Linked DNA regions of Homo sapiens. The protein of the gene in region 1 interacts with the protein of each later gene in a biochemical or structural test. Each region holds a gene or a part of one and is shown on either strand. Other genes may lie near its edges. The genes, in order: MECR and PPARA.

What was found.
Region 2: the proteins of MECR (region 1) and PPARA form a complex in vitro, tested with the Homo sapiens proteins (one study listed by BioGRID).

Annotation. Positions count from the first base shown.
Region 1 is NC_000001.11:29,192,935-29,201,439, reverse strand, and holds part of MECR (enoyl-[acyl-carrier-protein] reductase, mitochondrial), read left to right. Parts: coding exon of another isoform or gene 1-66; intron 67-850; coding exon 851-924; exon of another isoform or gene 925-1,030; intron 1,031-5,181; coding exon 5,182-5,242; intron 5,243-5,397; coding exon of another isoform or gene 5,398-5,426; coding exon 5,427-5,499; intron 5,500-7,260; coding exon 7,261-7,418; 3' UTR 7,419-8,505. UniProt on the Homo sapiens protein: Catalyzes the NADPH-dependent reduction of trans-2-enoyl thioesters in mitochondrial fatty acid synthesis (fatty acid synthesis type II).
Region 2 is NC_000022.11:46,237,516-46,254,417, forward strand, and holds the end of PPARA (peroxisome proliferator-activated receptor alpha), read left to right. Parts: 3' UTR 1-6,240; downstream 6,241-16,902. Other genes in the region: CDPF1 (cysteine-rich DPF motif domain-containing protein 1), read right to left, coding at 7,299-7,723, 9,591-9,706, 10,657-10,769. UniProt on the Homo sapiens protein: Ligand-activated transcription factor. Key regulator of lipid metabolism. Activated by the endogenous ligand 1-palmitoyl-2-oleoyl-sn-glycerol-3-phosphocholine (16:0/18:1-GPC). Activated by oleylethanolamide, a naturally occurring lipid that regulates satiety.

The DNA.
Region 1 (8,505 bases):
TGGCCTCAGTCTCTCCGAACTCAAAGCCTCTTAACCTTCCAGAACCTCCACCCCACAACATGCCTAGTAAGTGACCAGACCCTCAGCCCCTTTTCACTGAACCATCTGGAGGAACCAAAGACACACACTCAAGAGCATGCGCTTCTTGCGAACATTTCTGAAGCAGTAGATCAGCATATATAATATCAGCTGAGTCAAAGAACTGAAAAGGGGGGCACACAGGGAGCTGAAACCCACCAAACTGCATGCAGATGCCCTTTGCCTATTCTTTCCCAGAGAAGATGAGTTCTGCCAGGTCCTAAAATGGACAACAGGATTAAGTTGCTACAGAAAAGGCCCTTCTTGGCTGGATGAGGTGACTCATGCCTGTAATCCCAGCACTTCGGGAGGCCAAGGCAGGCGGATTGCTTGAGTCTGAGAGTTTGAGACTAGCCTGAGCAACATAGTGAGACCTCTGTCTCTACAAAAAAACATTTTTTTTTAATTATCTGGTCATCATGATACTCATCTGCAGTCCCAGCTACTTGGGAGGCTGAGGTGGGAGGATTGCTTGAGCCCAGGAGGGTAAGGTAGCAGTGAGCCATGATTGCACCACTGCACTCCAGCCTGGGTAACAGAGCGAGACCCTGTCTTAGAAAGAAAAAGAAAAAAGAAAGAAAAGACACTTCCTAAGCAGAGAAAAAGGTGAGTTCAAAGGCATAAACACACACACATATACATAAGTACGTGCACGCAAACAAAGGCATAAACATCTCATTTACTCCCTCCTTTTAACACAGCACTTGGGCAAGCTTCAGACCCCATATGTAGAGCGGGGATGCTCCCTCACTGCACTTTTGTTGTTTTCCAGGACATGCCCCAGCCACGGCTTGCTCTCAACTGTGTTGGTGGGAAAAGCTCCACAGAGCTGCTGCGGCAGTTAGCGTAAGTCCCTTGGGCCTGCAGGTCCAGCTCGCCAGAGCTCTCCAGGTCTTTAGCTGGGAGGACCATCAAGTGACTGAGTCCCATCGCCAGTTCGAGCCAAGTCCAGGTCAGCACAATGTTGAGTGGAAACTAGGACCAAAGTCATCCAGCTATTTGGGCACTGGTTTCTCAGCCTTCCCCTTTGCAGATGACCAAAATTTTGGCCTATCCAGCTTTATTTTTCCAAGGGACCCCAGAAGTAGACTGCTAAGCTGCCTGCCATAGAGGAATAGTCAAGGATTTATAACCTAGGGATGTCTGAAAAAGTCACTTAGTCCTAACTTATTTAACCTTTCAAAATTTGTATTAGCTTTTAAAATAGATTCTAATTTTAAAGGTAACATTATGCTTATTACAAAACATTTTGAAAACATGTAAAAGTGCAAAGGAAAACTTAAGCATAAAAGTTTCCTGTTGGCTGGGCACTGTGGCTCATGCCTATAATCCCAGTAATTTGGGAGGCCAAGGAGGAAGCATCACTTGAGGCCAGGAGTTCGAGACCAGCCTGGGTAACATAGTGAGACCCCATCACTACAAAAAAAAAAATTAATTTTTTTTTTAAGTTACCTGGCCAGGCATAGTGGTTCATGCTTGTAATCCCAACAAGACAGGCAGATCACTTGAGGCCAGGAGTTTAAGACCAGCCTGGCCAACATGGCAAAACTCCATCTCTACTAAAAATACAAAAAGACTAGCCAGGTGTGGTGGCAGGCACCTGTAATCCCAGCTACTTGGGAGGCTGAGTCACGAGAATCATTTGAATCCAGGAGGTGGAGGTTGCAGTGAGCCGAGATCACACCACTCTACTCCAGCCTGGGTGACAAAGGGAGATTCCATCTCAAAAAAGAAAAAAAAAAGTTACCTATCACCCCACTACCAAGGGGGATAAGCCCTGTTGACAATATTAATGCATGTCCTTCCATTCTTCTTTCCCTTAATATAAGCTTCTAGGCCGGGCGCAGTGGCTCAAGCCTATAATCCCAGCACTTTGGGAGGCTGAGGCGGGCAGATCACGAGATCAGGAGATCGAGACCATCCTGGCTAACACGGTGAAACCCCGTGTCTACTAAAAATACAAAAAATTAGCCAGGTGTGGTGGCGGGCACCTGTAGTCCCAGCTGCTCAGGAGTCTGAGGCAGGAGAATGGCGTGAACCCCGGAGGCAGAGCTTGCGGTGGGCCGAGATTGCGCCACTGCACTCCAGCCTGGGCGACAGAGGGAGACTCCGTCTCAAAAAATAAAAATAAAAGCTTCTTGAGCTAGAGTGTGTGTAAAAAGACACTTCCTAATTAAAGCAGGAACCCCCTCAATAGTACGGATTCAGCTAGCGCATACTTGCTGAGCACTTACTAGCTACCAGGTACAGAGAGGGCTGCGACACTGATGTGCCCTCTGAGAATTCACAGGCTTGATGAGCAGGTGAGTCACGTGGCCAGAGCACTGTGGTGAGTATTCACCATGCACCAGACTGTGTGCAGCGCTTGACTTACCCTTCCCACAACCACCTAGACAGGGGGTGCAGTTCTAACCTCTGTTTTATACTTTTAAACAATGAGGCCCAGGCCGGGCGCAGTGGCTCATGCCTGTAAACCTAGCACTTTGGGAGGCCGAGGCAAGTGGATCACCTGAGGTCAAAAATTCGAGACCATCCTGGCCAACATGGTGAAACCTCGTCTCTACTAAAAATACAAAAATTAGCCAGGCATGGTCGTGGGTGCCTGTAATCCCAGCTACTTGGGAGGCTAAGGCAGGAGAATTGCTTGAACCCAGGAGGTAGAGGTTGCAGTGAGCCAAGATCGTGCCATTGCACTCCAGCCTGGGCTTCAGAGAAACAGTGTGTCTCAAAAACAAACAAACAAAAAAAAACAAGGCCCAAAGAGGTCAAGTACCTGTCCCAAAGTCTAGGCAGCAGGAGAGCCAGGCTTGACCCCACATTTGAGCACACCGCTTCAGCCCTATACCTGACAGACAACCCCTGCGGCAGACCTCAATCCCAATGTCATTGCAGGGGGAAGCGTTGTTACGGGTGTAGGCACTGGAGCCAGAATGGCTGGGTTCAAGCCCCTGCTCTGTGACTTACTAGCTGTGGGCCTGTGGAAAGTTAGGCAATACGTGAAAAACAATCCAGGCCTCCGTCTCTTCATCTGTAAAATGGGGGTTATATAAACCCTCTGCCTCTGAAGGGTGGTCTAACACGGGTCCCCAGCCCCCAGGCCGCAGACCAGTACCAGTTCGTGGCCTGTTAGGAACCAGGTCACGCAGCAGGAGGTGAGCGGTGGGTGAGCGAGCATGGCCACCTGAGCTCCGCCTCCTGACAGATCAGTGGCAGCATTCGATTCTCATGGGCATGTGAACCCTATTGTGAAGCACGCAGGGAAGGGATCTAGGTCCCATGCTCCTTATGAGAATCTAATGCCTGAGAATCTGAGGCGGAACAGTTTCATCCCAAAACCATCTCCCCCACTCCAGTCCATGGAAAAATTGTCTTCCATGAAACCGGTCCTGGTGCCAACAAGGTTAGGGACCGCTGGTCTAAAGGACACTGGGCGATATACAAATTGCTGTACAAATGACGGATGGACTTCAGCTTTCTCATCTCTAAAACAAGGTTGTTACGAGGATTCCCTGAGGCAGTGCATGCAAAATGCTTAGAACTGTGCCTGGCACATAGTAGAAGCCTGGTAAGTGTCAGCTAGTCTGATTAGATGAAGTGCAGCAGGGATACAGAAGAGAGAGGGCTTGGCTCCCAGGAGCTACTTTCTACAGCAGGTGGCAGTCAAGGGGCACTTAAGACCAAACTACCCAGCAGCCTCAGGGACAGAAGTACCTGCCCTAGGACAGCAGCTCCTTCCATTTGGTAGTTTTGAAAGTCTACCTTGTGTTGTCCCCAAATGTGCCTGAGGTCATCCTTAATCAACAGACTCCTAGAAGAGCCAGGGAGTGGGGAGGTGAACATAGGTTAAGTCAAGTGAACTCCAGGCTTATTCACTTAAAAATTATGTTAGCCTCAATCCTGTATGTCAGCTGACATGGGGGTGTGGGTGTCAGACAGCAGGTACTGAGAAGGCACCTCCTGCAGTGAGAAGATGCTTGTCATTGTTCCCTGCACCGTCCACATCATTCCTTATCTGTAGAGCTGTTTCCTCACGTTGATTCTTAGAATGAGCACTGGCAGATGAAGAGATGAGGTCTGGGCCATTTTCACTGCATCACCCTAGGTCGGACACCTGTAAGTGAGAGCAGAGCCAAGGCTGAACTCAGGCCTCGAGCTCATCTGGGGAGAGCATGTTTCTTTTCAGCACTTAATCAAAGCCTGACTGGATGGGTTAGATCAGTGGATTCCCAATCCTGGCTAAACATACAAGTCATCCAGAGCGGGTGTGTGTGTGTGTTTAATATACATTCTCGTCTCCTGATTCATTGAGTCTGGGATTGGACCTAGGAATCTGGTTTCTTGGTTGTTTTGTTTTGTGTTGAGATGGTCTCACTGTGTTGCCTAGGCTGGAATGCAGCAGTGCAATCTCAGCTCACTGCAGCCTCAACCTCCCAGGCTCAAGTGATCTTCCCACCTCAGCCTCCTGAGTGGGGCCACAGGCATGTATCACCGTGCCCAGCTAATTTTTTTTTATTATTATTTATAGACACAGGGTCTCACTATGTTGCCCAGGCTGGTCTCAAACTCCTGGGCTCAGGCAATCCTCTCACCTTGGCCTCCCAAAGTGCTGGTATTACAGGTGTGAGCTGCCATCCCCAGCATGCATTTATTTATTCATTCATTCATTTATTTTCTGAGACAGGGTCTCACTCTGTTGCCCAGACTGGAGTGCAGTAGTGCGATCAGGGCTCACTGCAACCTCAATTTCATGGCCTCAGGTGATTCTCCCACCTCAGCCTCCTGAGAAGCTGGGACTACAGGCATGCCGCCTTGCCCAGCTAATTTTCTGTACTTTTTTTGTAGAGATGGGGTCTCCTTTTGTTGCCCAAGCTGGTCTTGAACTCCTGGGCTCAAGTGATCCACCTGCCTCAGCCTCCCAAAGTGCTGGGATTATAGGCATGAGCCACTGCTCCCAGCTGGAATCTGTATTTTTCAACCTTTCCCAGAGATTCTGAGAGCAGGGTTTATAAAGGAACCAGGGTTGGAGTAGAAGCGCCATGGCAGGTTCAGGAAGGGCTCTGTCTCTGCCTTGCATCCACTCTTTGTTCTCTTTGGACTTTTCAGGCGTGGAGGAACCATGGTAACCTATGGGGGGATGGCCAAGCAGCCCGTCGTAGCCTCTGTGGTAAGCTGGGTGCAGAGGGAGGCATGCCTGGAGCCGGGCCAGACACCTCAGCCAGGCCACATCCCCTGGCACGACAGCTGTCTAAGCTTAGGCAATGCCCCGTTCCTGGAGGGGAGTCTGTACCCTTAAGCGGTACCTGAAGTTCTTGCCCTCAGAGCCCAGCATGTCCTTCCTGTGTCTGCAGAGCCTGCTCATTTTTAAGGATCTCAAACTTCGAGGCTTTTGGTTGTCCCAGTGGAAGAAGGATCACAGTCCAGGTGAGTGCATGGCCCAGTGCCAAGAGTCACAGATGAGGGCAGTGCCTAAAAATGGCAGCAGAAATGACCAGCTATTCTGAGCCCTGGAGGGGTGATTGGGTCCCCAGCCCCACAGAAGGATCAAAGAGAATAGCCTTAGTCCAGCTACAGTCAGCAAACAGTTATTGGACTAAACTGGGTTAGTCTTAGGGGCGCAGAACAAGACAGACACTGCCCCCGTCCTGAAGAGCTGACAGTGGGGAAAGATGGATAGCCAAACAGAGAGAATAGACTCTGGAGCCAGCCTGCCTGGGTTCAAATTCTGCTTCCACACTACTGGATAGAGGTTCTGCCTAGCCAGCAGTGGGACCTTGAGCAAGTTACTTAATCTCTGCCTCAGTTTAAATGTCCTAAGTTTAAACTCTTGTTAGCCGTGTTTGACAGAGGAGGAAATTGAGGTTCAGAGTGGTTAAGTAGCGTGCCCAAAGTCACCTCCCTGCAGGGAGGTATGAGGCACGATGTAAACAGATCATCTCCCTGTTCATCTCCTGGAGGACTGGCTCCCCAGAGCGGGATCTCCAAACTCAGGACAAAGAATAACATGGAGTTATCCAAGTGAAGGGGAGGAAGGTGGTGGCATGAAGGCAGTGTTTCAGGCAGAAAATATCGAAAATCACACGTGCAACTAGGCACTGAAGCGGTTCCGAGCGACCTGGAGCACTAGATCTGAGCTGGGGCTGGAAAATTGGGTGAGTGGGTTGTGACCAGGTTACAGAGGCCTTATAAACCTGATTAAGGCATTCAGACTCATGGGTTTTTTTGCTGTTTTGGGGGGTTATTTTTTTTGAAACAAGGTATCGCTCTGTTGCCCTGGCTGGAGTGCAGTGGTGTGGTCACAGATCACTACAGACTCAACCTCCTCGGTTCAGGTGATCCTCCCACCTCAGCCTCCCAAGTAGCTAGGACCACAGGCACACGCCACCACATCCAGCTAGTTTTTGTATTTTTAGTAGAAATGGGGTTTCATCATGTTGCCCAGGCTGGTCTCAAACTCCTGGGCTCAAGTGATCCACCCACCTCAGCCTCCAAGAGTGCTGGGATTACAGGCGTGAGGCACCACACCCAGACAAGACTCACGCTTAAAGGCAACTGAGGAGCCAGTATAGATGACTAGATTTGAAGGCTGAATGAATTTATGTCTATGGAAAAACACTTCTCAGCCGAGGCCTTCACTTCTCAACTTCCTGTACCATATAGGGTCCTTCGCAGGAGGCAGGCCCAGGAAGGGGATGTTGGTGGCGTCCGGTCGTGGGGTTCTAAGGGAGTCCTGGGCTCTCAGGGAGAGCTCCATTTCCTGAGCAGAGCTCAACTGTTCCACATCACTTGGCGTGCCAGGCATACCCACTCCCTCTCTGGGCCTCCTCTGGCCTCCCTGCCTCCGCCATCCTTTTCCTCCCACCATTCAGTGCTCCTGTCTCCACTGTGGCCAGGTTCTGTGAGTCTGTGCCATCTTAGCCACCACTCTGAAGGGTGGTCTCTGCCTGTCTGCCCCTCAGCCCCTAGAGCCGCTCCTATGTTCCCCTCTCCCCACCTTGACCTCACTGTCCTAAAGACAGGCAGGGACCAGGCTGCCTCCACAGCCACCCTATCCTTGGCACAGCCAGGACTCTCAAGGCTTTATTGGAGCTTGGTGCCAGCTCCTGCCCATAGGGCAGCCCCGTGCCACATCTCACCAAGCCCCAGCTGCTGTTCTCTTGTCTGATTTCCTCCAACCTCCCGCAGACCAGTTCAAGGAGCTGATCCTCACACTGTGCGATCTCATCCGCCGAGGCCAGCTCACAGCCCCTGCCTGCTCCCAGGTCCCGCTGCAGGACTACCAGTCTGCCTTGGAAGCCTCCATGAAGCCCTTCATATCTTCAAAGCAGATTCTCACCATGTGATCATCCCAAAAGAGCTGGAGTGACATGGGAGGGGAGGCGGATCTGAGGGGCTGGGTGCAGGCCCCTCAGTTGGGGCTCCCACCTTCCCCAGACTACTGTTCTCCTCACTGCCTCTTCCTATTAGGAGGATGGTGAAGCCAGCCACGGTTTTCCCCAGGGCCAGCCTTAAGGTATCTAATAAAGTCTGAACTCTCCCTTCCAAAAAGTAGAAGTCATCCCTGTCGAGAAGGACCAACACTGTGCACTGGTCAGCTCACAGCACCAAGAGGCCCCCTTCCTGCTTTTCTGTCATGTGTTCCCCCAGTAATCATTTTCTGACCACCCTGAAAGCAAAGCCTGGGTGGGTACTGGCAGTGCAAAGGCCAGTAGGCCACCATCCCTGGCCCCAAGCTGCACAAGCCCACAGACGAGGGTCCTGTAGAACAAACGCTTTGATGTGCTTCTCAGGTAGCCTGCGGCCCAGTCCAGGGCTTGGGGAGGATCAGCTGCATGGAAGAGTGAATGCCAGGCTGAGGTCATCAGGGCCCTGAGGAACTTGGACGTGGGGTCTTCACTCTCATGGAACTGCCCTTCTAACTGGAGACATAGACAATATACCAGTGGTTCTCAACCAGAGGCAATTTTACCCCCAGGAGACATTTGACAATGTCTGGGGATATTTCTGGCTATCACAGCTTATGAAGGAGGTTGCTACTGGCATCTAGCAGGCAGAGTGAGTGCTGCTGTTAAACCCACCACAGGACACAGAACAGTCTACTGCAACAAAGAATTACCCAAGGCCTGGCGCGGTGGCTCACACCTGTAATCCCAGCACTTTGGGAAGCCAAGGCAAGCGGATCACTTGAGCCCAGGAGTTCAAGGTCAACCTAGGTAACGTGGTGAAACACCATCTCTACAAAAAATACAAACATTAGCCAGGTATGGTGCTGTGCACCTGTAGTCCCAGCTACTCGGGAGGTTGAGGTGGGAGGATCACCTGAGCCTGGGAGGTCTAGACTGCAGTGAGCCATGATCATGCCACTGCATTCCAGCCTAGGCAACAGAGCAAGACCCTATATCAAAAAAAAAAAAAAAATCTAGCCCCAAA
Region 2 (16,902 bases), on another chromosome or scaffold:
TGAACCCAGGAGGTCGAGGCTGCAGTGAGCTGTGATCTCACCACTGCATTCCAGCCTGGGTGACAGAGTTAGATTCCACCCTCTCCCACCCCGGCAAAAAAAAAAAAAAAAGATGCAATCAAAGGGGCTGTTGGCCAGCAATGGCAGCAGCAGCGGCGGGCAGTCTGCCCAAGTGTCTTAGGAACCAAAAGCAAATAAAAGTGTTTCCATATATGCCACCAGCCAAGTGGCCATCCTAATTCAGAAAGAAGCTAGCCTTTGAGTGTCTGTCATGGTGCATCCGTTTCAGTATTATTTCCTAAAATGAGAAGCCCCTGTGTCAACAAGATCCAGGGGCTGGAGCCCAATGCCAAGCCTGTGTTGTCCCCAGCGACCCTGCAGCTGCTCGCTCTGATGTACCCTGTGCCATTCAAGGAGATGTGGTCCAGGAAAGTGAGCCTCATGGTTTTCAGAGAAGTCATTGTTCTGTTTACATTTTCATAAAACCTGTTTAAAATAGCTCCCCGTCTCAGGCTTTCAGCAGTAACAGTGAGCTGACTGGCAAGTTCGATGTTAGCTCCCGGGACACTCAGCAGCGATGGTGAGCATTTTGGTTTCCTTAAGGCCCAGCAAGACTTCCAGGGACATCTCTGGTGAAGCCAGAATGGAGACACCCGTGACCTCAGGCTGAAAGTCACTCGACATTGGTCTCTTGTGTTGATAGGGAAGGAAATCAGGCATTCCTATTTCTTTAAATAACAAAACCACTAATTGCCACTCAATGCTGGAATATTTTGGGTCACCTAATCATAGATTTCTCAGGGCATCAATACTCAAATATAGGCTGATTATGCCCCAGTTCAAATGGGAACTATTAACAGAGTGCATTTCTTGCTTGCTGGGTTTCAACAGACATCAGCCAAAAGAACAAAAGAGATGTCAGGACAGATTCCAGGAGTGTCGGAGCACATGTGTGGCACCCGCTCCCTCTGGCAGCGAATGTAGGAAGTCGCCAAATTTACCCACTCTTCAACAAGTCATTGTTTAAACACGGTTTTTCATTTTCTCAACTTTTAATAGCAAAAAGTGCCAAAGTCCTCAGAGACCTAACAGCCTTGGTCTACCGTGCTGACCAGGGTGAAGGCACGGCGAGGGACTCCTCCCAGACGTGCCTCTTGTGTGCCAGCTGGCTGTGGCTCGGGAGCAGACGCAGGCCTCTCCATTGTCCAGGGGAGCCTGGCGGCGCATCCCTCCTCTCCCACCTCCTGGCACTTCCAGCTGGGTGTCCCACATGTTGGATTCCGTCCCCACCACACTTCCAGAGACCGGAGAACTGTGCAGGGCCTAAGGCCGTTTGGATGAATTGTCAAAACAAGATGCTTCCAGTTACAGCGGCAGGAGCGGGACTGGGAGCACGGGCTGACGGCTGCTGGTGCCTTTCTTCCCACCTCGCTTGCCTGTTTCCGCTTGACCCTTCCTCCAGCTCCGATGAGAAGAGTATAAAGCATCTTCCTAACGGGTGTGTTTGCTATACGAACATAATGGACGTGAAGTGGGGCAGAAACCCAGAACTCAGCATTCAAGGATGCCCAGGAGAGCTGTCCCTGTTTTAAAGAGCTGTGTTTTGTTTTGTTTCGCATTTAGAGAGCAGACAAGGCACCCTTCTGCTGCGCTGATACGTTTCTTACACTGGGCCATTTTAGACCCCCAGGGAAACAGCCTTCCTGGAGCGTTGTCTGGAGGTTCCAGGGACAGGGCAGCCTCCCAGAGCCGAGCAAGAGCTCAAGGTACAAATGAGAGATTTGCTATACCGTGAGAAGTCAACAACTTAGCCACCACTTCCCCGCAATGGACCATGTAACAAATACCTCAGCAGGCCCTGCAAAAGGCCATGCTAGAGCTGAGGCGCACAGCCTGTGGCCTCTGTAGTTAGGGCAGGTGGGATGGAGACTCCTTGAGTGCACACACCTGAGCCTGCCCACACACAGGGGAGCAGCATCTCGTATGACGTCTGGAAGGAACTTCGGTTGTGTAAAGGGAGCCTTGAAGATACGTGCAAAAGGTGCTACCCCAATTTGGTGAAACTGACATTGGGCACGTCTTGGGCTTAGGAGAAGCGGCCGATGGTCCCGGCCTGCAGTGACAAACCCCCCTCCCCGCACCGCCCCCAGCACCCCCTCTCCTCTTCACCTCTTCCTGCTGGCCACGAGGAAGCCACTTCCTCAGAGAGACCCTACCAGATGCGGATGGAAACAGATGCACCAAAGCAAGCCCTGATGAAACCGCGACTTCCTAAGGTCTGTCTCCTCTGAACTTGCACCTGGGCCTCTCTGTGTTTGGTTCCAAGCACTTCCCACCTCAAACTCCCATTTTCAAACCACTGTATCTCTGCGCACATCTGCTACTTACCAGCCGCATACATGATGGAGGGTTTTTTGGTCCTGATCCAGTGGCCACACCTGTCTTTGAAATGTCTCACTGAACTCCAGTTTTAAAATAGATTCATTGCTTCAACACAGCAAGCCCAATGCACCCAGCTAAGACTGGCTTGACCGACAGCCTGGCCTTTGGTGGGGGGCTTCCTGGGGCCTGGGGAAAGCTGGCCACCTTCAACAGCTGGTACCTCTTCAACAGTGTGGCCTTTCAAAATGCAGATGCCACCAGGAGAACATGCCCACAGCTCACCACCTATGGATGCCATGGCTCTGGGCAGCTTTCAAAGCAGGTTCCTGTGGTCTCCTCAGCTGTTTGAGGGGGTAACAGCAAATCAGCCTCCATTTTAAAATGAAAACACCAGCCTCCAGATGTAGGGCCTGCTGGGTGTTGCTAGCCGCTGGTCCCCAGGCACGGTGCACTTTCTCCACCTCCTGCAGCCTCCCTGTTGTTTCTAGACTCTTGCACCTGGTGAGTGCAAGGATAGGTGACCCAGGGGCCTGCAGCCTTGTCCTCAGCTCCCATCTCCTGGACTGCCAGCCTCACCCTCTGCAGTTAGCATGGTTGGCCTGATGCAGGGATCCCGAGGGATTACTTTTTAGACCTTCTTTCACATTCAGAAAAGTAGTATAGATTCAGGAGAGGCAAGAAAATTATGCTGTCCATAGAAGTCACCCATGAAGACTGATGCCACCACCTGAAGGCTCATGATTGTTAAAAATGTCCACGGGAACCTCTCGTCCACAGGAGGTTTGTCTCAACACTTCCCATTTTTACGGCATTGGCATTGCCAAGCATGGGGAAGTATCTGCTCTTCTCATGTTAAAAGTGGCCCAGCTTTTCTTAACTCAGTCCAAGCTGACTTGTTTAGCTGCACTGGAATTTCTTACCAACCAAATATTTGCATCGAGCAAAGGGGGCTGTGTGCACCTCCCTAATGGCAGCGATGATGGCTGCTGTCATTCAAGCCCATCTTCAGACGTCACAGTCTGGAAGTGAAATGTCCACAAACATCTGTGGCAGAAAAGGCTATACGGACCACCCAGTTGTGCTGCAGCTTTACAGAGCAAGGAAGGGTTGTGGCAAATAAATGATTAACCTGCCTCGACTGTGCTGAGGGCAACAAAGGCCATCTCACCAAAGGATTATTCGATGCCATTAAATCATCCCGTGACCTTCCTGCTTCCGAGTCCATGGCCTTTGCCCAGGGCATGTACTCCCCTGAGAGGCCTTCTGCCTAGAAAGATCTATGACTGGGTTCCAAAGTTGAGGCCTAGGTTTTTGCTGGGATTTAGATATTTTCAGGCACCATTTTGACAGCATTCAGGAAAACGGTTATTGACCCCATAGACTAGGGTAAGAATAAAGGCAATAAATTTGGTCTGACTCAGAATATAGGAGATCCATATATTTCTCTGGAAACCACAGTGTACACTAAAATGTGAAATTGAAGGTTTTGTTAAAAAGAAAAAGATAATGAGCTTCATGCTTTGTTTAATTACATAATGATTTCCATTACGCTATTTCTGTGAAATGCAGCAGGTTCTTAAACGTTATTTCAGTGGCATGGGCTGGAAGCTTATCACAAAAAGCCATGTGTGTGGCCTTATCAGAACAGAAAGAGACAGGCTGGTGCCCAAGGCTGCTGCCTGCTCCACCTTTTGCCAGCTCTGGACATCTGAGGACGTCCCGGCAGATCTGGAATGGGGCCCTCAACTGACCATTTGCTTCTCAGAATTTCAGTTTGAGACATGAGAGGTATAATCAGTTACTTTTCTCCCCCCAGAGAAACCCTTTTGTGAGGGGAGAGGAGCTATGGTATGTGGTTCAGCTGAAACACATACAACTGCATCCTTTTGGAGTCCTTTGCCAACAAAAACAGACCAACAGACCAGATGGTGTCCATGTTCAATATCATGTCTTGATGGACGCAGCTGATGACCTCAAATACTTGAGTGGTCTCATGGCTGTTAGATGGATTATTTGAAAAAAAAAAAAAAAAAAGAGAGAAAAAATAATTGATTTTTACATCAGAGATAGCAAACTAAGACCTGGGGAGGGGGGTCAGCTTTTATTTTATTTTATTTTTTTTAAGTTTGCTAGTTGGGTCAAATGTGAGGAGGAGGGAGTCTACCTGCCACCTCTTCTCTTGCCCCTCTTCTGCCCACACATCCAGCATCCAAAATCCATTCATTTAATGAATTGATAAAGTGCCGTGCAAACTGGTGCACAAACAGGCCCCCAGTCCACGCAGCCTGGCTCCTAGGAAAAGTGGTGACCGGGCGTGGGGGGGCATGCCGCAGCCCTGGGACACAGTCGGGCACCTTCCCCGGACCCCCAGGCCTTGGCTGTGCCTCAAGTCAGAGAGGGTCAGCCTTCAGGCCCCGGAGACGAGTGACTGGCCGATCATTTCACAATAAAATCACTCACTTTTGGCAACTTCACTTTTTTTAAGGCACAGTCAGTTCCTTTTCTCATGTACCTCACAAAAGATGAAGACCATGTAGTACTCTTTTTGGTAAAGTTACAGTGTTCATGTTAAATATCACTTTTTTCTACATTGTGTGGTAAAAAGAACTACGTTAATAGCTATATCTTAAATACTGTGATTTGACTTTTTGAAAAATATCCTAATACAAATATTTTACTAACTTACAATCACTCATTTAATAAGAAACATTTGGATTCTTTTGAAATCAGTGTTAATTGACTCATATTCTTAAAAGCCTGGCTCTTGACCCTATTGGAAACACAAAGGAAGCTGAAATCAAACATCTAAAATACACTGCGTACACGTGTGCGTGCACACACACACACACACACACACACACACAGCTCTTCATTTCTCCTGAGCCATGCAGAATTTACTTTCAATGTGGAAATCTGTTCCCTTTACCACACTGTATATGCACAGAGCACAAGAGAGGCTATCTCTAGTCACTTCCACCAGCGAGGCCTTAGACTCCGTATTAGAGGCCACCGATTTCATACAACAGTGTTTCGCTAAAGACCCTTCACTATTCTTGTTTAGTAAATAGCTGTCTGCTCTTCAGGGAACTGTTACCTATGGGTTATTACCAAAGAACGCTGGCAATTGGAAATGTCCTGATGGAAATTCTTTGCACGTGCCGGTTCTCTGGCATCCTCCAGGTGGCCCAACCCAAAGCAGAAAGCAGAAACCACAGACCCCGTGAGTCTCCCCATACCTTGTTTCCAATAACTTGGCAAAACTTCTTGGTGCATATTGGTTACACCCTCTGGGATTCATAATGCCATTAGGCTAAAACCCTAAGAGAGAGGGTTGACAGAAACACACGCGAGAATGAGGCAGATCCCAGAGCAAGGACTGGGCCCAGACTCTCCACATGTGCTCTACTAGTGAGTGCCTTATACTCTCAGTATTTTGGGGCTTACAGCTTCTTATTTGTGCTAAAAAGGTGCAGTTCCAAAGTAGGAACTGCCACACAGGCCCCAGCATCCTCTCTCCAACTTCATACCTCTCTCCTGGTGGGGGGAGCGGGCATCCAGGACCTCCGGAATCAAGGATGTGCAGAGAAGAGCGAAAGTAATTTTTCTAGTCACATGAACTGATTGGTTCCAGGCAATTAGAAAATGGCTATAAAATAACCTTAATTTTAAAAAAAAATCTTGGGTCTTCGTTTTCCTATTAGGAGACTGAACTGACCACATGTATTGATTTATATCCTGAATATATGGGAACTTCTGTGTTTGGGATGTCCTACTGTAAGACTGATGAATGTACAGAGTTAATTTCAGGGTACAGTTTTGCCTTAATGGTTTTAAAAAATAAACTATTTTTTAAAATTTTTTGGTGAGTTTTGAGTGATGCTGCGAGATGGACTGTTTGGTCTAAAAGAACCAAGTCCCCAGCTGTGGGGTCCGCCCTCCGCCAGAACAGTCCCTGCGCCCCTCATGGAGGCTGTCTCCACCTGCACAGTCCCTTTTGTGTCCTTCAACATACAGAATGGATCAAGGACAATCTGGCTCCGGAATACGACATCCTTTCGTCTGAAGTCACATACAACGGGAACTTTTAAAGCAGTGAGCATCTTAAAGTCCATCAGTGCACAAGTCAGTAAAAACTCTTTATTCATTCCTTCATGTGACAGTTGGCCTTGAGTAGTTACAAAGACAGAGCAGTTCCTGCCTCTCAGAATTCTAAGCAGACATTCCAGAGCTCACAGATCAGTGTCCCACCAGCTGCTACCCTGGAAGCTTCAGGGAGATGGGGAGCCTGGAGTAGGGGGGTGCTGCAGGAACCCCCGGCAGGCAGTGGGGCCAGGCTTCACAGGCACCCAGGGCTGAGTGCGAGATGGCAGGGGGCAAGCAGGCAAGCAGTGGGATGGTCTTGAGGTGTGGGGTGAGGGCAGGAAGCCCACGGTATTCCTGACTTGGAGTCGAGGGAGACAGAACGGAGGGGCCCGAGCTGAAGACAGAGTCTGAGGGAACTGGAGAGGCTAGAAGCCAGCACTCAGCTTCCCAGGAGACCCCAACTATTGCCGGGCCAAGTGTCCAGGGAGAACGTCGGGTATCCAAATGTTTCAGTGGAAGATTCCTTTTCCAAACATGAGCTGGTTCTTTGGGTTTTTAATTATAAACATAATACATGGTCAAGGTTAAAAACATTTTCCAAGCACCACATAAGGATATGAAATAAAAATTCTATCCCCCTCTAGACCTTCCAGACTGGGTCCAGAAGGAGCTGCTGTCAGTGATTTTCCTTACAGAGAGACCATTGCAGCCACCTACAGTGCACCATGGCCCCGACACAGTGTGGCATCTCCCCCCACACGCACCTGCACGCAGCCTCTTAGGAGCTGCCCTGCTGAAGGAGGTCATCCCTCTCAGTCACATCTGAGCAGCACTCACTCAGGCCTGGGCCCTGAGGGGCATGTGGGGGGACCTGGCCGGGTTCCTGGCTGTGTCTTGTCTGGCATCTGCCTTTGGACTACCCTCTTGCTACAGCTCCCTGGGCCTGTGGCTGCTCCAAGCTGGACTCCAGCTCCCCTGGGCTGCAGTGCTGCTCCCAGTGGTCCAGAAACAAGGCCAGGCATGGCGGCTCCCAGCTCAGCAGCATCCCTGGCGCAGGCTGGCCCAGGAGCTCTGTGCAGGGTGCCGCCCGATGACCTAGCCCCAGTTGCACTCACGTCCGAGAACCGGGCTGGCTGGGGGTCCTCTTTGATGGAGCTTTCCTTTTCTCCAAGTCTTGCCGAATTTCCTGAGGAAAAGCATTGATGTTCTCCCGGACACAAGGGAGGCAGAATCTCTTGGAGTAGAATAAACTGCATTCCTTAAAGAAGTGGACAAGGATGGAGGCTTGAGTATCCTGGGAACATGGTGCAGCTCCTCCCAGGGGCCAGCCCTTCCCACACTTGGGGGGCTGGGCTGGGGCCCCAGCATGCACAGTGTGGGCAGGTGGCCAGAGCTAGACCAGCAAGAGGGAGAGCCAGGCCTGAGGGCCTGGCAGGGTGTCCAGGAGAAAAGCAATGCAGGCCTGGGCTACCCTGGGTGGGAACAGCTGGGATGGGACAGAAAGACTCTGGGGCCTGCTCTGCTCCATCACGGGGCAGTGACAACAATGGAAAGCTGGAGCACAGGCCATGCCCCGAAAATCCCAGAGTCCTCCCGTCCCAGCTATCGCAGCACGAACAGTGGCCACCTGGTGCTGGGAGCGGCAGGGGACAGGAAGGACAGCCCCACAGACCAAAGACGCCATGGACGAGCCAGCTAGTCTGGGCAGGAGGCCAGAACCGTGCAGCCATGTCCGCTCTCCTCTCTCTTACACACTAGAACTCCCGAGATTCATCACGGTGCACAGCACGTGGCTAAGGATGACATTCCCCAGCCCCCTCTGTAACTGGGCATCGCCATGTGACTCAGGCTGGTTAGGGGCGTCAGCAACTGTGTGTGCCACCTCCTGGTCATGCCCTTTGAAGGCATGGACTGTGCTCTCACGTCCCTTCCCGCTGCCTGGGATGCAAATATGATGGTGGGAGCTCCACAGCCACAAGGGACCCAAATAGAGACTCTGCTGAAGACAACAGGGGTGCCCTTCCAGCCAAGGCCACCAGTTCTGGACTCTTACATAGGAGAAAGTAAGTAAATAACTATTTGCTTTACTTAGGCCACTCTTATTTTTGGTGTCTGTCTGTTCTTAAAGCTTAGTGTGCTCGCAAACATAAGGCTGCCCTCCTGCAGTTCTTAGAAAAGACCCTTCGCCATGGAGATCCGCTCACTAACAACCTACTGTTTAAACAAAGAAAGCTGCAGACTTGTGGTACCTGCGTGCGCCCCCCACCCCCGCCACCCCGCTGCTCACGAAGAGCAGCCCAAGGCCAAGGTGTTGCATTCAAGACCTCCACCTCCCCACCTGGCCCACCCACCTTTGCAGTCTTCCTTTCCCAGCTTCTCCTGGACCACCAGCTCCTCCATGAGCCTCAGATACTCCCATGCCACACTGCGGAGGCTCCTCCCACCCTGGCCCATCTCGTCCCCCTGGCTATTGATACAGCTCCCCTTTGTGTGTGTCAACCTGTGGCAGATGCTCAGGGACTTCTCAGACTCTGGGGTCACTCTGAGTACACTGGGCACGCTGTGAAAGCCATGCTGCTCCACTTCCATCCGTCCTTGGGTTTACAGCTACCCAGGTGAACCTGGCCCACCCAGCCTCTCTGAAGCTCAGTTCCCTCATCTATAAAATGGGTGGAATATAATACTGCTTTACCTGACTAAGGGGCAGGACTGAATGAAGCCTCAGCAGTAAAACAGGTCCCAAGCACAGGACCTGGCACACAACAAGTGCTCATGAAAGGACAGTCCCTTCTCCTGGAGATCCCTCCAAGAACATCTAGAAAGTAAGTCACCATCCTGGTGAGAGGGCGCACAAGGACTGTCTGCACTGTTGGTGGGAAGGGGAGGAACCCTGAGGGGCCACTGGGGTGGGTGCAGAGCCACCAATTACCTATTTCCATTCCTACACCAGGCTGAGACCCTCTAACTGACCCTAGCTTGCCCTCTCACCTCTCCCCTTCATCAGCTGAGGGGCCCCATCTATAATGGGGTGAACCCGCTGCTCCCTCTCTCCCAGCCCTCCCTACCCAGGGAGAGCTCCAGGATAACCACAGCAAGGACAGGTGGCCCCAGCCCACGCTGCTTACCCACCGGGCCCACACACACCAGCCTGCTGCACAAACTGCAGCACGAGCCGAGGACCAGGAATCTGTCCTTGTCGGAGGTGAAGGGATCCTTCATGACATAGCTTTCCTCCAGGAGGCTGCAGGAGAGTGAATGCAGCGTCAGAACAGCCCAAATCTCTGCCGTCGGAAAATCAGCCATGACCTATGGCCAGGCAGCAGCAGCCTGCACCTCTGCAGGGCCTGCATACCTGCGTGGGCTCATCAGGGCAGGGGACTAGGCCACCCGTGCTGCAGGGCAGTGACAGAAAGGATCAGCAATTGGGGGCCACACTGGCACTGAAATTGAACCTGCTCTCACCTCTGTAACAGCCATGGTAGAGAGAACCCCTTGTTCTCAGCCAAAAGCAGGGCTGCTGCAACATGGGCCCCCAGACCCTGACTGATTCACCACAGTGGGGGCACAAGGCTGCCACCTGAATACCCCAGGCCTCCCTACACCCCAAGCCACACCCTCACAGCCCCTGGAAGCCAGCTGGCCTCATGCTACACATCAGAATGAGACCCCAGGGTGACATGATGACACTCAGGCTCCTGGTCAGCAGAGGGACGACAGCCAGAAGGAAAAAGCCATGCCCCTGCCACTGCATCCCATGTGAGTAACACACCGGCCAGCTTTCCAACAAAGTGGCATTTGATGAAGGACAAGCTGGAGGTCAAGAGATAAGCCCCCTGACCCACTGGCTCTAATCCAGGTCTGCAGGGGAGACAGGCCTCCCATTAAGAAAGTGTCATGGCAAGGGTGCAGCCCCAAAGGGGGAGGCCACCACAGGTCCCCCAGCTGCTGAGCTGCTCCCCCACAGCTAGAGCAGGTATTGGACTCTGGGCTAGGTGTGGAGGAAGGTTCTGGAAGAGTCAGACCTCAAGCCTTGCCCAGGCCTCCAGAGATTACACCAGAAGCATTCAGAGCCTGGCCAGGGTGGGGTCTAAAGCTCCACACCTGAGACAGTTGTCAGACCTAGGCACACCACCCACCAACCAGCACTGGGCACAGGCCTCCCCGGCACTGGCCCAAAAGGCATGCACTCACACCATCGACTGGGTGTTGGGGGGCTTCTGTCCCACATAGCTGTACGGAGCTGTCAAGGTACAGAGTTCACACTCAAACACTCCCAGAGGACGGCACTCTACATGGGACGCCATCTGCAAGATCAAGAGATGGGGTGTCCCTGGGTCACAGGCTTTCTCAGGAATCCTGCCCCTTTCCCAGCTATGAAGACCCTAACCATATAGTCCTAGCACAGTTTCTTGCCTCCCTACCGTACCCTTTTCTCTATCCCCAGCTGAAACAGGTTTTCACCGGTGCCCAGAGTGACAGGATTTGCTGTCCATATTCCAATGGTTTAAGGTTTTTGTACTGCTAGAGAGAAGGATCCAGACAGGATCAAGCCAGAGCACCCATCTCTTCTTCCAGGTCTGCACCACGGTAAAAGCGTTCCGGTCTCCTGCTCTGCCCCATTCTTTACCACAAGCCCCCAGTGAACGCTGGTGGAGAAGGGCCCAGAGTGGGTGCAAAATCTCCTGTTTCTGCTGCTCCTAGAAGCTCTATGCCCTCACATTAGTCCACACGTGGTGTGGACATTAGAACTGTTTTCTTGGCCAGGCGCAGTGGCTCATGCCTGTAATCCCAGCACTTTGGGAGGCCAAGGCAGGCGGATCACGAGGTCAGGAGATCGAGACCATCTAGCTAACATGGTGAAACCCCGCCTCTACTAAAAATACAAAAAATTAGCCAGGCGTGGTGGCGGGCGCCTATAGTCTCAGCTACATGGGAGTCTGAGGCAGGAGAATGGCGTGAACCCAGGAGACGGAGCTTGCAGTGAGCCGAGATCGCGTCACTGCACTCCAGCCTGGGAGACAGCGAGACTCCATCTCAAAAAACAAACAAACAAAAAAACTGTTTTCTTATCTGCTTGTATGGAACCCCCTTCTCATGTTCATGGTTGGGTCTTGGAGGCCTCTCTTTCCTTAGATTTCTGGCTAAATGGCTGCCATCTGATGGGTTCATCAAAAGTTACAATTTTGCTGATTACCCAGCTCCTTCTTTGACTATGGAATCAAGTACGACATTATCAGCTGGCCCCTAGCTCTTGGCTGTGACCTCCCCTCGCCTGAACTGAGCGTGGTGTATAAAGGCGTATCAAATGCGATGGCTTTCCCCACTGGGTGTCCCCAGATGCAACTCCAGGAAGCATGGGTTACCAGTGACTTTAAAAGTTAAGTCTGGCCCGGTGTGGTTGCTCATACCTGTAATCCCAGCACTCTGGTAGCCAGAGGCGGGCGGATTACCTGAGGTCAGGAGTTCAAGACCAACCTAGCCAACATGGCGAAACCCCATCTCTACTAAAAGTACAAAAATTAGCCGAGCATAGTGGCGGGTGCCTGTAATCCCAGCTACTTAGGAAGCTGAGGCAGGGGAATCACTTGAACCTAGGAGGCGGAGATTGCAGTGAGCCGAGATTGTGCCACTGTACTCCAGCCTGGGCGACAGGGCGAGACTCCTTCTCAAAAAAATAAAAATTAAAATTAAATAAAATAAAATATTAGCCGGGCGTGGGGGCGGGCGCCTCTAATCTCATCTACTCAGGAGACTGAGGTAGGAGAATCGCTTGAGCGGGGGGTTGGGGAGCGGGGGCTGGGGGGGCGGAGGTTGCGGTGAGCCGAGATCGCGCCACTGCATTCCAGCCTGGGCGACAGAGCGAGACTCTGTCTCAAAACAAAAGTTACGATCGATCGCGGGTGTGCGTGAACCTGATCCCGCTTCTCTTCTGCACGCCGGGGCGTCCTAGGCCCCTGCCGAGGCTCCTGGGGGCGGTGCCTGTGAACAGGGACGGCTGAGAGGGTCCGGGGATGCTGGTGGTCCCCGCGAGCCTCCGCCTGCCCTCTCTCGCCCCAGCGCTGCCCGAGGTCAGGGGGGACAGTCCCGTGAGGCCCACACCCCGCTTCTCGGTCCCGTCCCCAAAGCTGAGAGCGGCTGCGCCGACTCCTGGCGCTTGGAACCCAGCAGGCCACGCCGGCGCGGAACTCAGTCCCGGCGAGCGGGAGGCACCCTGAGGCAGCGCAGGGAAGGGCCACAGCACGCTCGCCCCAGTCACTCTGCCACCTCGAACTCACCGCCGCCCTCGTCCCACGGCTCCGCGTCCAAGGCGCCTGAGCGGCCCCGCCCCACCGCGGCCCGGCCAACCCCGGTGCAGCCGCAGACGCAGGCGCGGAGCGGGAGGCGGGACCTCGCGGTGGTTTTCCGCCTCTGCCTTGCTTTTCCGGTCGCCGCGGTCCTCTGCGCGGGATGTGGCTCTGAGCTTCGGGGTAGTCCGCGAGGCTGGGTTCCGTGCTGAGGGGCGTCGCGTCTGGCCGTGCGCTGCGGGAGCGCGCGGGCCTGGCCCGCTGTCCTGGCCGCTGCGAGGCGCTCAGCTTCTTTCTGAGTGTTCCGCCGGGTTCGACAGGGTCGAGGTCGCCGGCGCGAGGCTCCCGGATAGCTGAGGGGCGCGAGGGCGCCTCCAGTCTCCCACCTGCCCTCCCGCGCCGCGGACTAGGCTGCCAGTCTACCCCACCGGGACGTCTGCCCCCGCATGCAGGAGGGGGTGTGTCGGCCCAACGGGGTCTCAGGACCTGTCCCTGCTCCTCCAAAGCCCACGTCGCCTGCGGCGCCCCTCGGGTCTGCGCCGCGTTCTCCTTTAGCCTCCCGGGCCTCTCCGCTGCCCCTCGCCCCCAGGCACCAGCCACACCTGCTTCCTTCTGTTCCCGCCCGTGGCCTCTGACACGCCGTGCCCTGGACCCGAAATGCCCGCCCCACTCCTGGAGCCTCCGGTGTGTGAGAGGCACCTTTCCTTGGGGTCAGGGGCCCGGACTCTGAAGCCGGCCTGGCTTTGCCTGTGGGCCCCGATCCTCCCAGCTCGAGTCCCTCGCCCCAGCCGCCGCGGGCCTTCACCTGTGCTTTGGGGACGACAGGATGGCCACCCTCCTTCCCCCAAAGATTTGAGGGTTTTGCTCCACGCGGGAGAAGGTCTGCCTGTGCCACCAGCCGGCAGCCTTTCACATGCTGTTGCGTTACGGGGCCCTCTGTGACCTTTCCCTAGGCCGAGGGGTGCTTCGTCTCTGTTCCTGAGAGACCAGAATTTATTCTTGGTTTGTCAAGCCACATCTGTAGGAATGTTGCCCAGTTGCAGCAGGCTGGGGTCTGGGACTTGCTCCTTTGGCGAATTGAGAAGTAAGGATATAGAAGGCATTTTAGCACTAATGGAAACCAGAACCACTCTTAGACCTGGGCAAGAGGGGCCCCAGAAATTAGCAAGCGATTAGCAAGCAGCTGGATTTCGATGACCTCCACTGTACTTAGAGCAACGGCATTCGATTCGTTGGATCATTTCAAAGATGACATACTGGGTTGTTTGTTTGTTTCTGGCGGTGTCTAAAGATGGAACATCTTGAAGCATTTTGAATTTGACCTGTGGCTACCCTCAGATACAATGATGGTAACCCCATGAGTGCTGTTAAAGCAATTTGACTTATTGTAGACAGGTTAACACATGAGATGCGTTAAAAGAGTTAAGTGAAATAATAGGCAGCATTCAAAGAGCAAATCGTGGTCTTTGGCAGAAAATAGAGTTAATTTTGTATTTGAGCTGTCCAGTTATTACAATTAGAAAACGTTTTAAAGAATCCAAAAGGATTTAAAATATTGCATAAAGTTTTAGGAGAAAATGGTTTCCAAAAAGCAACTGCATATGAAATAAGCACTAAAATGACATTAAAGTACAATGTAAGAAAATCGGAACTAGAAGCATTTGCTGGAGTCTGAAGAAAAAGATTTATGGATGAATGATTCTGAAACTAACTTCTATAGAGACAATTTTCCGGCGATGGTAGATCAAGGTGTAGATTGTACTGAAGAGAGAGATTCAAACAAAGTGAGTAATCTACCGCAGTTTTCAGTTTTCTTGGTAATACCCCAACAACGTAAAAGAAAAACGTAAGAAATCCTGTATGGATCTAAATGTAAGAAACGATGATAATGGTGAAATAATAACATTATTTTATATAATGAAAATATTGTGTAATATTTTCTGCAATCATAATTTTTCATATGCACCCTTTCTACACTGTTTAAACATGATATCAACAGTCATGATTCAGTTCTACATATAACGCTTTAAGAATTTATTCATAATTCGTTACCACTCAGCAGAGTCAAGTTTCTCCCAATTGAAATAACTAAAAACTATCTGAAAGTATACTGACTCAGGAAAGTTTGTCTAATTTGGCACTACTGTCAAAAGAATGCAATTGCGTGAAAATCTTCATTAGTCATTCTTCTGAAATGAAGACAAGAGAAACATTTATAGAAGAAATAACATAATTTATGGATTATGTGATTATGTATGTCTTTATTACCCATCCAAGCATTAGTGGCCCATCAACATAATACCTAGAGATACACAATAAAAATTAGCTATCTTTAATATTTTGCCAATTTTCAGCTATATTAAAACCATAGTTTTACACATAATTTTGAATTCTGTTTTATGAAGGTGTATTTGTCCAGGTAAGTGGATATAAATATTTTATGTAACAGTTCGTAAGCTTTTAAATATTTAGACATACAGAGATTTGTAGTCCTGCCCTAGGCCCCACAGATGCTAGGGGTGGGCTTGCTGGGAAAAATGCATATATGTTGTGGCAATACTTATAAAATGTTGTATGGATGTAATCTTAAAAGATTATCACAATATCAGATATTGTACATTGTGTATTTAGGTGAAGACTGTGAAAGAAAATCTGAAAATCAGAAGGAATTGAATGCAGATGAAAATCTAGAGCTAAAATATTGCTAATAGCAGCAAAAGGGGGTACTGTGGAAGAATAACTTCTTATGTACCCCACTTCACTGAATATCCTATTCGCCCCGTTCTCCATTTCTGCCAGTAACATGGAAGTCTAAAGGCTTGCATTTTGTTTCTAGTGCTAACTAATGAAATTCCAGAAGCAGGCCTTAAAAATGCAAAGTCTTCATAATTAACAATAAGTGTTGAGATAGTTGAAGGGCATATATCCCCTTCTCTGTACCTACAGCAATTGAACTTTCTCTGCATATAAAACTTGTTTTTATTAAATATTAAATACTACTCTTGAGTATTTAATAAGGGGCTAAATTGAGAACAAAACCAGGAATATCCATCTTCTTGTTCTGTGCAACAGAGACAGTGGGAGGGTATTCGTGACTATAGCCAATTATTCTGGAATAGTCCTACCCTATCCCTGGAAGTATAATGAGAACAAGAGTCTTAAAAGACTCCTTTAGGCTGGGCGCGGTGGCTCATGCCTGTAATCCCAGCACTTTGGGAGGCCGAGGCGGGTGGATCACTTGAGGCCAGGAGTTTGAGACCAGTCTGGCCAACATGGTGAAACCCCATCTCTACTAAAAAAATAGAAAAATTAGCTGGGCGTTGGTGGGAGTGTGCCTGTAGTCCTACCTACTCGGGAGGCTGAGGCACCAGAATTGCTTAGTCCCACCTACCTGGGAGGCTGAGGCACCAGAGTTGCTTGAACCCCGTGGGCAGAGGTTGCAGTGAGCTCAGATCTTCCAGCCTGGGCAACAGAGCAATACTCCATCTCAAAAAAAAAAAAAGACTCCTTTAGAAATTGTTGCTATGGGCCGGGCGCAGTGGCTCACGCTGTAATCCCAGCACTGGGAGGCCAAGGTAAGTGGATCACCTGAGGTCAAGATTTTGAGACCAGCCGGGCCAACATGGTGAAACCCCATCTCTGCTAAAAAAAAAAAAAATGCAAAAAATAGCCGAGCGTGGTGGTGCACACTTGTAGTCTCAGCTACTTGGGAAGCTGAGGCAGGAGAATTGCTTGAACCCAGGAGGCGGAGGTTGTAGTGAGCTGAGATCAAGCCACTGCACTCCAGCCTGGGTGACAGCGAGACTCCATCTCAAAAAAAAAAAAAAGAAAGAAAAAAAAAGAAAAAAGGACACCTCCAACCCAACACACACACAAATTGTTGCTCTGTCCTGTGAAAATGGCCTTCAAAAGAAACCTGAATTTTTGTTACTTGACACCTTGTCCTCCTGATAATGGTATAATTGGCATCTCTTTGTTTCTAAACTGTATAAATACCTGTCATCACTCTAACAGATTAGAAGAAAACCCCTCGTACTCTCTTTCCCAACATGCCTGGAAAAACTCCTGTGACTGCTGGATTTCTCACTTTCACCAAGAAATTGAGATTCTTGTCTCATTTGGCAGGCCCCACAGCAGCTGTCCCTGGTCGTCA